Linked DNA regions of Homo sapiens. The protein of the gene in region 2 interacts with the protein of the main gene of each other region in a pairwise test. Each region holds a gene or a part of one and is shown on either strand. Other genes may lie near its edges. The genes, in order: CWF19L2, CCDC88B and RALBP1.

Region 1 (3,650 bases), about 43 Mb from region 2:
CTTCACACTCTCACTTTCATACATTTTCTCAAAACTCTACAATACATCTACTGTCCCCATTAATCTACTGAAACTTCTCCAAACTCACCAGTGGCTTCCACTGTGCCGAACTCAACAAAACGTTTCAGTCTTCAGCTCTCTAGACCTCTCTGCTTAATGCAACTCTGTTGATAACTCACTTTCCTGGCTTCCATGACACCTCTCAGCTCTCCTCCCACTCTGTTTCTTCTCCATTTCCTTCATGAACTCTTCCTCCTTTGCTTAGCCCTTAAATATCTTGTTATTTGGGATTCCATTCTTTGCCCATGACATTTTTCAATGTCTAAACATTCCCTTTGGGCCATTAAATCCATTCTGATCGCCTGAACTACAATAAATTGTGCTGATATCTTTCAAATTTGTCTAACCAAAGTTTCACTGACTAATTGTCTACTGCAGTTGGATGGCATGCTAAACTCAGTAAGAACAGAAGATAAAGCTATCCTCTTCTTCTACAAAATCTACTTCTCCTTGTATAGTATTGAACTGAGTTATCTGGAACAACCAACCACCCACTTAAACCAAGTCAGAAACTCAGGATGATGTTACCTCACATATTCAAGCCTACCATTTTCATTTTTAAAATATTTATTAAATATACCATAGAGTGAATACATGATTACCATACGAGCCTACCTCTATCCCTGGCCACTACTGATTAGTTCAAACGTAGGTACCTGACCCAATTCACATCAACCTGAGCCATTCCACAGGAATCTGAAATCAGGTCTAAATGGGCTTATCTAAAACTAAGAAATGGGAAGGCATTGGGAGAGGCCATTTCTGTCATGAGAAATAGAAATCAGCAAAAATTTTTTAAAAACTAGAACTCAGGGTAGGGGAAATGAAAAATGGCAAGAAAATTGCAAAAACCATTCACAATTCTAATTCCAGCTATTCTTGAAGCCTAGCTGCATTCCTACATCTATATGTCTTATGAGAATTTTGTACTTTAATAATAAATCCTTTTTGCAAAATCCAATTTATATTTAGTTTCTGTTACCTGCAACCAAAATACCAACTAATATTCTCTTCTTTGATCCTTAAAGTAGCACCCCAGGCTGGGCGCGGTGGCTCACGCCTGTAATCCCAACACTTTGGGAGGCCGAGGCGGGTGGATCATGAGGTCAGGAGTTCGAGACCAGCCTGGCCAAGATGGTGAAACCCCATCTCTACTAAAAATACAAAAATTAGCCAGATGTGGTGGCGCATGCCTGTACTCCCACCTACTTGAGAGGCTGAGGAAGGAGAGTATCTTGAACCCGGGAGGCGGGGGTTGTGGTGAGCCAAGATCGTGCCATTGCACTCCAGCCTGGGGGACAAGAGCAAAACTCCGCCTTAAAAAAAAAAAAAAAGTAGTAGCCCTAGATCAGATCTTATCTCTCACCTAAACAACTGATTCCAGGAGACCTAATTAATCTCCTGGACTCATCTTTCCTGCTCCCCTTCTTTCTCCAACCCCTCACCCCAAATACATTTAGAGTAATATAAAGGGAACATCTGACCACCGTACTTCTCTTCTAGGGCTTCCCATTACAAAGACTGCTAGTTATCCCTCTTCTTTCCTACCAACAGAATCCCATTTTATTTGGAGAAGTAATGTACTTCCCATGCTAGAAAGTGAAGCCTTATGATCAAGTGTCCAATTAGATGTAAACAAAAGTATTTTATGGGACTTTCTGGAAGTCAAGTTAAGAAAAAAAAGAGCATCTTCTTTCCTGTTATCTGGACTAAGAGGCAATGCTGTAAGGATGATGGAAAAGCAAGACAATAGAAGCCTAGGTCCCAGAAGACCATACTAGCCCTAGACTGTCTACCTGACTTATTTCATATCAGAAAAAAATGAATTTCTATCTTGTATAATCAATGGCTATTCTGAGATTTTCTAATAAATGCAGCTGAACCCAATTAGATGATACATTCCCTACTGAATAAAGTCAAAGCTCTTGGTTTACAAGGCCCTATTAATTCTTACAGTTTCATCTCCATTCACCCCCTCCTCTTGTTTTATAATTTAGTACTATCAAATTGCTTATAGTTATATTTACATACATACACACATACTCACACTCATATTATCTCATACTTCCATGTCTCTGCTCTCGCAATTCCTTATGCATGAAATGCCAAGCACACCTTTATTTGCCTAATGCTTACTAATCTATCTAGTCTCAATTCAAGCATCATTTAATCAACAAGTTAGCAAATGAAATCCCTCTTAATACCCTGTACTACCATGGCATCATGTTGGATGGTATGCTAAACTCAGTAACAACAGAAAATAAAGCCAACATCTTCTTCTACAAAATCTACTACAAAATCATATTATTAATATTATGTATCTATTTATCCAATTAGGAAATGAGTTCCCCAAAGGTTTAAAAATATATTTTTATATTCCCCATGTCTAGAACAGTGTCTGGCAAAGAATAAGCATTTGATAAATGCAAGCTGAAATTAAATGAAATGTCTTTTTCTACTCTTTCAATAGCACTAGTCAGAAACTTTTAAGCAGCAACCTATACTCATTTTCACAATTATGCACTCACTCACCTTACCACTTCAGCAAAATTGATGCTCCCCATGCTACGACTTCAGTTCTCTTGCTAATTTTAGTTTCAATCTCCATTTTACCTTGAACTCATTAACTATCAAGCTTAATACGCCTCCTGACCTAACACAGCCTTCAGGGCTCTCCTTCTCTTGTGCAGCCTGCAGAATTAACCACACCTCTAATTCTATCTAGTGGTCAAAACCTAGAAGGTGGAACTAAGACAGAAAAGTGCTACCAGCAAAACTCAAGGGATCTTGAGGACTTCTGCTTCTGTCCTTGACAAAATAAATGGCATCAAACTAGAAATACATACAAATTGGAATAAAAATGAAACTACAATCTCTACAGCTTTTTATCTAAAGGCACTTTCTAGACTGTGGCATAGAGGGGTAACCCAAGCAGAACATGAAAATCTCACTGAGCAAAGGAAACGGAATTTGAACTTTGTGAAGGCTGAAACAAAAGTACAGATGGGAAGTTACACAGAGAAAGGGTGCCAGAAATCTACTTAAAGGACCCCTGGAGTCTTTAAAGAAAGACCAAGCTGAACATGCTGAGGATGAGAGTCCACAAGGTCAGGCAAAGAAAAATTACCATGGAGAAAACAATTACCAAAGAGCTGTAAGCAGAACAATCCCCAGAGCTCACAAAGGGCTGGAAGACATTCTAGTTCCTCCCAACCAGAATAAAGAAACCTCGCTGAACATCCATGACAATCAGCAGAGAACCCACAAAGGTCATGCCTTAGTAGAAAGGCTAAACCAGTCCTAGAGTAAAGCTATTCTAGGTGCATACGAACAAAACTTAAAAACAATCCTTGAAAAGGATTAAGCTAATTCACAAGTAATTAACTGTATGCCAAAAGGAAACTCAATACTCTCTGAAGAAGTCAACAAAATCCAGCAGTCACAATATAAGTTTCATAGGGTTCAGCATCCAATTAAAAGTTACTAGACATTCAAAGAAGCAAGCAAATGTGACCCATATTCAAGAGAAAAATCATTTAATTGAAACAGAACAGGAAAAAACAAGAGAAAATGAAACAGCAAACCAAGAC
Region 2 (3,650 bases):
AAGCTGGTCCCTGGCAGGAGTGAGAAGGGAGAGGTGGGTGTGAGGCCCAGGGAGGCCGAGGCAGTAGCAAGGCACAAGCTGCAGCGAGGACGCACTGGTCCCGTGCCGCAGATTGGACTGACCTGGAAGGTCAGCTCCAACCCTGTCCCTAGGCCCTCACTAAGGGCTCTCCCCAGGAACGCCCAAAGGGGATGCAGGCCCCACCCCGCTCCCAGGCGGCCCACTCACAGGTACTCCCGCTGTTCGCGGTGCAGGTGGTCCCGACTCTCCAGGCTGCGCTCCAGGAGCTCCCTGTTCTCCCGGCTCAGGGCCTGAACTTCAGCCAGCAGCTGCCGGTTCTCCTCTTCCTGGGCACTTCGCAGCTGTGTCAATAGCTGGCAGGGGGGCACCATGGCTCGGAGGGTGGGACCCAGCTCAGGACCACCTGGGTCTAGGCTTTCTGCCCCACCACACGCCCATACCCCCACCGGCCCTCCAGCCACACCTCACACTGCGTGGTCAGCCGGCAGGCGCTCAGGTCCAGCTGCTGGTTGGACTCGCGCAGCTGCTGGCTCTGCATCTCCAGCTGTGCCCGCTCCAGCTCCAGCCGCGCCAGCCGGCCCCGTAGCTCCCCGCGTTCACCCTGCAGCTCACCCCGCTCCCGAGACAACTCTGCCAGCAGCATCTGAGCCCTTGGGAGGCAAGGAGAGCTGCTCTCCAAGGGACCTGGGTCCCCAGTCCGAGTGCTGGCCAGAGAAGTTATGCCGGGGAGGGGAGGCCAGACAGGACCCCACACCCCCAACCCACTTTCAGGATGGGGCCACTGAGAGCTGCTAGAGGCTGTGGCAGGGGCGGCACCTGTCGTGCTCGCTCTGAAGCCTCCGCAGCTCCTCCTCCAGGCCCCGCTGCCGATGCCCATCTTGCATCAGGCGTTCACGCTCTGCCAGCAGGGCCACCTCCTGTGCCTCCACGCTGGCCCGCTGGGCCTGCAGCTGCTCGTGCCTGGGATGGACAAGGGGCTAAGAGGGCTGTGTGAACCTATGGCCACCACAAGCAGCTGGCTGGACTATCTGGACCCGGGGCGGGGGGGTCTGTCACCTCCTAAGCCTAGGTCCCCCAGAGGAAGCCATTGGGCAGAATGCCATGCCAGGTGCCCACCACTCCCAATAGGTGAGCCCCACGGGGAGCCCAACCCAGAAGTGTGGGGAGCACAGCTACCCCAGAGGGCACAGCAGTGGCCGGGGCATCACAGAGCGGAGGTGGAGGTGCTTCCTGATGGGGAGTCAGACCTGCTGAGGGGAGTCTTCTCTGGCAGATAGGGGGTGCCAGGGGAGGAGCTGGGCATTTGGTGATGCTCACCGGCCCTGCAGCTCCCGGTGGGCCAGCTCCAGTGCCCGCATGTTGGCCTTGAGGTCTCGGTGCCGCACCAGCAGTCCCTCTAGCTCGGCCTCCTGCCGCCGCTGCAGCTGTGCCAGGGCCTTGTGGTCCCGAAGCAGGGCCTGCTGCTGCCCGCGGGTCTCCTCCTGGGACTGCCGTGCCGCCCGCACCTCCTCCTCCAGCACCTCCAGCTTCCGGTGCAGCTCCTGGCCCTGAATCTCCAGCACAGACTTCTCGGCCTAGGATGGAGGAGGGAAGCAGGGGCTGCTGGGGAGGAACCCCTGGCTGGAAATCGAGTGAGAGGCGGGGGGCTAAGGGCAGACGGTAGGGCCCAAGACAATGAGAGAGTTGTGGAGGAGGCAAAGGGCTGGGGGCACAGCAGGCAGTACAAGCCCCAGCCAGAGGCTGATGGTGAGCAGGGGAGAGGCGGCAGAGGCTGGCTGGGCCAGGCTGTCCGGAAGGGGCACAGGGCAGAATGGGACTAATGGCGCCCTGTGGAGGGGAGGGCTGGGACAGTGAGAGCGCAGGGCGACATGGGTGTAGATGTGGGGGCTGGCGGCAGGTAGGAGGAGATAGTGGCAGGGAGGATGGTGCAAAATGGTGGCTGGGGTCAGAGGACAAGGATAAATGAGACTGGGGAAGAGGTGGGGCAGCTGGCTGGGAGCTGGGATAGAAAAAGGCCACAGGATGATCCAAAAGGAGCAGGAGGGGGCAGTACATGGGCAGGGATGGGCACCCGGGCCACCACCCACCTGCAGGCGGCTGCTGTGCTCCTGCGCCCGCTGGCTCTGCAGCAGCAGCTCCTGGGCACGGCCCTGCAGGCTCCCCAGCTGCCCCTCCAGGTGCTGCAGCTGCCCCTGCAAAGCTGCCTTCTCTGCCACCAGCATCGCATTCTGCCCAGAAGTGGGGGTTAGCAATAGCCAGGTGGCGGGGGCACCCCCTAGTGCCTACCACAGGCCCACACTCACACTGCATGGGGCACCCCCACCCCCGGGCCCACTGTGAGTCCACACTCACACTGCACGGGATACCCCCCAGCCCAGGGTCCACCGTGGACCCACACTCACACTGCACGGGGCACCTCCCCAGGGCCCACTGTGGGCCCACACTCACACTGCGCTCCACCTCAATAAGCCGCACATTCTGGGTCTCCACCAGCTGAGGCTCCGCACGCTTTTTGGGCCCCAGCCCCGCGGGGCCCTGGCGCAGCTGCAAGGAGAGTCCCTGGGAGGTCATGCGGGACAGCCGCAGTGCCTTGGGGATGCCTCAAGGACCTGCGCTTATGGACCTGCCCTGCCAGCAGCATTTAGCCTAGTCCACCCCGCCCCAATCCCATGCCTTCCCTTGGATCCCACAAGTCCCTGCTCCTGGTTCCTGAAGCTCCACCGTCACCACCCTGCCCTTCTCAACTTCTGTCTCTCTGCGGCAGAGCCTTCTGCTCATAACACTTCTCCATCCCACTACTCCTCTAAGACTATTTGGTTTTTTGTTTTTGTTTTGAGACAGAGTCTCACTCTGCCACCCAGCCAGGAGTGCAGAGGTGTGATCTGGGCTCACTGCAACCTCTGCCTCCCGGGTTCAAGCAATTCTCCTGCCTTAGCCTCCCGAGTAGCTGGGATTACAGATGTGGGCCACCACGCCTGGCTAATTTTTAGGGTTTTTTTTGTTTTTTTGGGTTTTTTTGAGACGGAGTCACACTCTGTCACCCGGGCTGGAGTGCAGTGGTGTGATCTCGGCTCACTGCAACCTCCTCCTCCCAGGTTCAAGCAATTCCCCTGCCTCGGCCTCCTGAGTAGCTGGGACTACAGGCGCCCACTACCATGCCCAGCTAACAGCTAATTTTTGTTGTTGTTGTTGTATTTTTAGTAGAGATGGGGTTTCACGGTGTTCATCAGGATGCTCTCGATCTCCTGACCTCATGATCCATCTGCCTCGGCCTCCCAAAGTGCTGGGATTACAGGCGTGAGCCACCACGCCCGGCCTGATTTTTGTATTTTTAGTAGAGATGGGGTTTCACCATATTGGTCATGCTGGTCTCGAACTCCTGACCTCAGGTGATCCACCTGCCTTGGCCTCCCAAAGTGCTGGGATTACAGGCATGAGCTGCTGTGTGGGGCCTTCTCTAAGCCTCTGTTTCAACCCCACCTTCTCCACAAAACCTTCCCTGATAGACTCGCATGCACCTGCTGGGTATCTTGCTGGGTACCACCCTCCCAAGCCCCTGCATGGCCTCCTCACAGCCCCTGGCACCTAGTTATTGTCACCTGTTTTCTTGCCTCTATCCTGACTGTCCT
Region 3 (3,650 bases), on a different chromosome or scaffold from region 2:
TTTAAAGTTTGGATTATTTTAAGTATAACCTTAATCTGAACAGAGCTGGAACAAAAAAAATAAAGTATGGGTTTCTAAAATCGTTTTGCTTATTGAACAAAAGGAAACTAAAGCAAATGATTTGCAAACATTACATAAGATTTTAAGTCTTTAGTACAATCTGCATTAAGTGACGTAATTTAGTGGCGATTGCTCAGAAGAACACAAAGTAGTTTTTTGCTGTTTTTAATACTTAACACTTTCAGCCAATTATGTGAAACAAGCTACAAATTAACGCTGATAGTTTCTGTGGGTAAATGCAGTCTAAGCTGAACAGCACTTCACAGTGGTTCCTTACATCTGGACTTTGGCATTCCTTATCCTTTGTGAAAATCTTTTAATGGCATTATGATAAATCTGTAACTTATCCAGTATTGATAAAATAAAATCAATAACAAAACACAAAAATAACACTATTATTTTTATATAATCTTTATTTTGTGACAGAAAATTAGAATTCCCATTTTCTTACTTTTATGACAATATGGGTAAACCATAAGTGATAATAACTGAAATTCTTGGCAAAGATTTTTTCTCTTCCTCATGTATATTTAATTCTTCCCCCTATAGTACCTACCCAACAAATTGTACAAGTAGACAATTAGAATGTGTGTTTGGTTTGTCATTACTCTGAAACTGTTATCAAAATGTTTTCTTTTTAAAAATTGGACACTACAAATGAAGTGTTCCACAGAAAGAAAGAGCATACAGGTACACTTTAATCCAAAAAATACAAGAAAATGTAGATGAGTAAATTAAAATGTACAAAATCACTTAAATTGTCTTTCATATTCGTTTAAAATTAGATAAGCAAGAACTAACACTTCCAGCAAAAGGTCTTAAAATGCATAAGTGAGAACTAACATCTCCAGCAAAAGGCAGTATTATTATTAGCACTGTCCATGACAGTAGCATAAGTCGGGCTGACTACAGCACATTGCCACAGGTTAGAGAATAAACCCAAAACTCAGCAGAGCAGGAGTTCAGCCCCTAGCTGTTGCAAGGATGGGCAGCAGCTCTGTCTGAATGCTTTTACACACAGAGAAGAGTTCTATGACTCTGAATTTCCAAAAAAAATGCAGACATTAAAAGTAGGTCAGAGACAAAAAGAATCCTTTGAACAAAGCTGTGGAAAATTTTCAGAAAAACTTTTACCTAAAACAAAACTAATTCATGGCTATTAAGACCATGTGAGAGAAGCAACTTATGTTATTAATGTTTAAATGTTTAAAACTCAATTCAGTATATTATTATTATTATTTATTTATTTTTTTTTTTTTTGAGACAGAATCTTGCTCTGTTGCCAGGCTGGAGTGCAGTGGCGCGATCTTTGCTCACTGCAACCCCTGCCTCCCGGGTTCAAGCTATTCTCCTGCCTCAGCCTCCCAAGCAGCTGGGACTACAGGCGTGCGCCACCACTCCTGGCTAATTTTTTGTATTTTAGTACAGACAGGGATTCGCCATGTTGGCCAGGATGGTCTCAATCTCCTGACCTCGTGATCTGCCCACCTCGGCTTCCCAAAGTGCCGGGATTACAGGCGTGAGCTACCATGCCTAGCCAATTATTCATAAAAATCAAATATTTGTTTAAATATATTTATATAATACTAAGGAGTTATAAACTCAAATTCAATGCCTAATTTATTTAATTTTCTATAAAAAAGTAACATTTTACCAAAAATACTCTTAAATAATGGCATGTAATCTAGTGGATTATGTAACGGTTTTCCCAATTATCAAAAATATCTGCCCTTTCTCAGCAAAACTTAAGTATCAAATCTACCTTCTAGAATTGCGTATGAACCAACTAAATGAAAAAACTAAGTCTATCTCTCTATATATTCCACATGTGTATGACTTAACAACTCATCATGAAAGTACTTGTGACCAACAAGTATTATTATTATTATTTTTGAGACAAGGTCTCAATCTCGCCCTGGCTGGAGTGCAGTGGTACGATCATGGCTCACTGCAGCCTCAAACTCCTGGGTTCAAGTGATCCTCCTGCCTCAGCCAACAATTAACTTTATAAAACAAATCTCTAAACAGAAACTGATGAGGTACCAAGACACTGAATAATGGGAATGTAATAATTTGGAACACAGATGCTGCTACAGGTCAGGGCTTTCATCCTATCCTGGTATAAAAGTCATACCGCTTTCTAAGAAATCTTTTTACTTTTAAATAATATACATATTGCTTGATTTAGATACCCAATCAAAACACATTCTTTCCAAGTATGAAATTTAATTTGTATACATATGGAATAAAGATAAATAGAAAATCCATTTTGCTAATATACGTAATAGTTGCATGTAGCTGACCAAAGCATTCACATGTGGGGCCTAAACATTTACTGCTTCTTGGTCTTTTGGCTAAAGTTGGGTGTAGTATCTGTTCTAGGATTTCTGGAGCAGGGAGATGGAACAGAAGCTTGCTTGGACCACTCCATGTATTGACCGGGTACTGCACTAACTCTAAGAACCGCGCACCAAGAAAACCAAAACCAAAACCATGTCATGCCTCTTAGCTGAGCTAAGGAAATGCATTATATGACTGTGTCCATAAACGTGTCTCTTGGCCAAGAAGCTTCCTTCACACAGTTAACCTTTCTTTTCTTGCTGATGGCCCTCATACCACTGAGCCTCTGCTTAGAGAGGAAAGAAAAAAAAAAAAAAAAAAGCAGGCGCCTGGGAGTGGTGGCTCACTCCTGTAATCCCAGCACTTTGGGAGGCCGAGGAGGGCAGATCATCTGAGGTCAGGGGTTCGAGACCAGCCTGACCAACATGGTGAAACCCTGCCTCTACTAAAAATACAAAAATTAGCTGGGTGTGGCGGCAGGCGCCTGTAATCCCAGCTACTCAGGAGCCTGAGGCAGGGGAATCGCTTGAACCCAGGAGGCAGAGGTTGCAGTAAGCCGAGATCACGCCACTGCACTCCAGCCTGGGCAACAGAGCGAGACTCTGTCTCAAAAAAACAAACAAACAAAAGAAAAAAAAAAGCAGGGTCTGAATGCAGCCCTGTTAAGCAATGCTGCCAGTATACTTCACTTTGTTTTAGTCCTGGCTGCTGCAAGCTATGAACAACTAACGTGAAATCCTCCTAATGGAAGGAAATATTAAAAAAACAAATGCCAGAACACCAAAGAAAGGCTGGGGAGAGGGGTGGATTTTTGTGCAACTGGTAGGATCAAGGAAATGAATAAGGCTTAGGATCCAGGCCAAATTTTCCTCACAATAATTTTTCTTCCTTCGAAAAATGAAACTGAAGTTATTATTAAAAACCATCAAGTGAAGTGCACATTCCCAGTACCTGATACTCTGTAGATGCCTTCACACTTCATGCCATACTTCTCTACGTAATCTATACATTCACGGAAAACGGCTGGCAGCCGAATGCCATCATACATCATGGTCCTCTCTACTGCATCAGCCAAAGGAATTCCAAAAATGGGTTTGAGATTTGGAACATCAATCTGAGGCACCTCTGGCTCCTGAATTGGCTTTTTCTTTTTCTTCTTTTCCTTCCACTGTTTAACAACATCAGCTGCTGTCAAGTCTTTTGACTTCTTCTCTTTATGTTTTTCTTCTTTGTGCTTTTCTTCTTTATGC

Evidence for each region.
Region 1: the proteins of CCDC88B (region 2) and CWF19L2 interact in binary tests that used the Homo sapiens proteins (3 or more experiments, as listed by UniProt).
Region 3: the proteins of CCDC88B (region 2) and RALBP1 interact in binary tests that used the Homo sapiens proteins (3 or more experiments, as listed by UniProt).

What each region holds. Positions count from the first base shown.
Region 1 is NC_000011.10:107,444,226-107,447,875, forward strand, and holds part of CWF19L2 (CWF19-like protein 2), read right to left. Parts: intron 1-3,650.
Region 2 is NC_000011.10:64,350,075-64,353,724, reverse strand, and holds part of CCDC88B (coiled-coil domain-containing protein 88B), read right to left. Parts: intron 2,566-3,650; coding exon 2,470-2,565; intron 2,250-2,469; coding exon 2,109-2,249; intron 1,596-2,108; coding exon 1,339-1,595; intron 982-1,338; coding exon 838-981; intron 672-837; coding exon 485-671; intron 375-484; coding exon 229-374; intron 11-228; coding exon 1-10. UniProt on the Homo sapiens protein: Acts as a positive regulator of T-cell maturation and inflammatory function.
Region 3 is NC_000018.10:9,517,005-9,520,654, reverse strand, and holds part of RALBP1 (ralA-binding protein 1), read right to left. Parts: coding exon 3,352-3,650; intron 1-3,351. UniProt on the Homo sapiens protein: Multifunctional protein that functions as a downstream effector of RALA and RALB. As a GTPase-activating protein/GAP can inactivate CDC42 and RAC1 by stimulating their GTPase activity.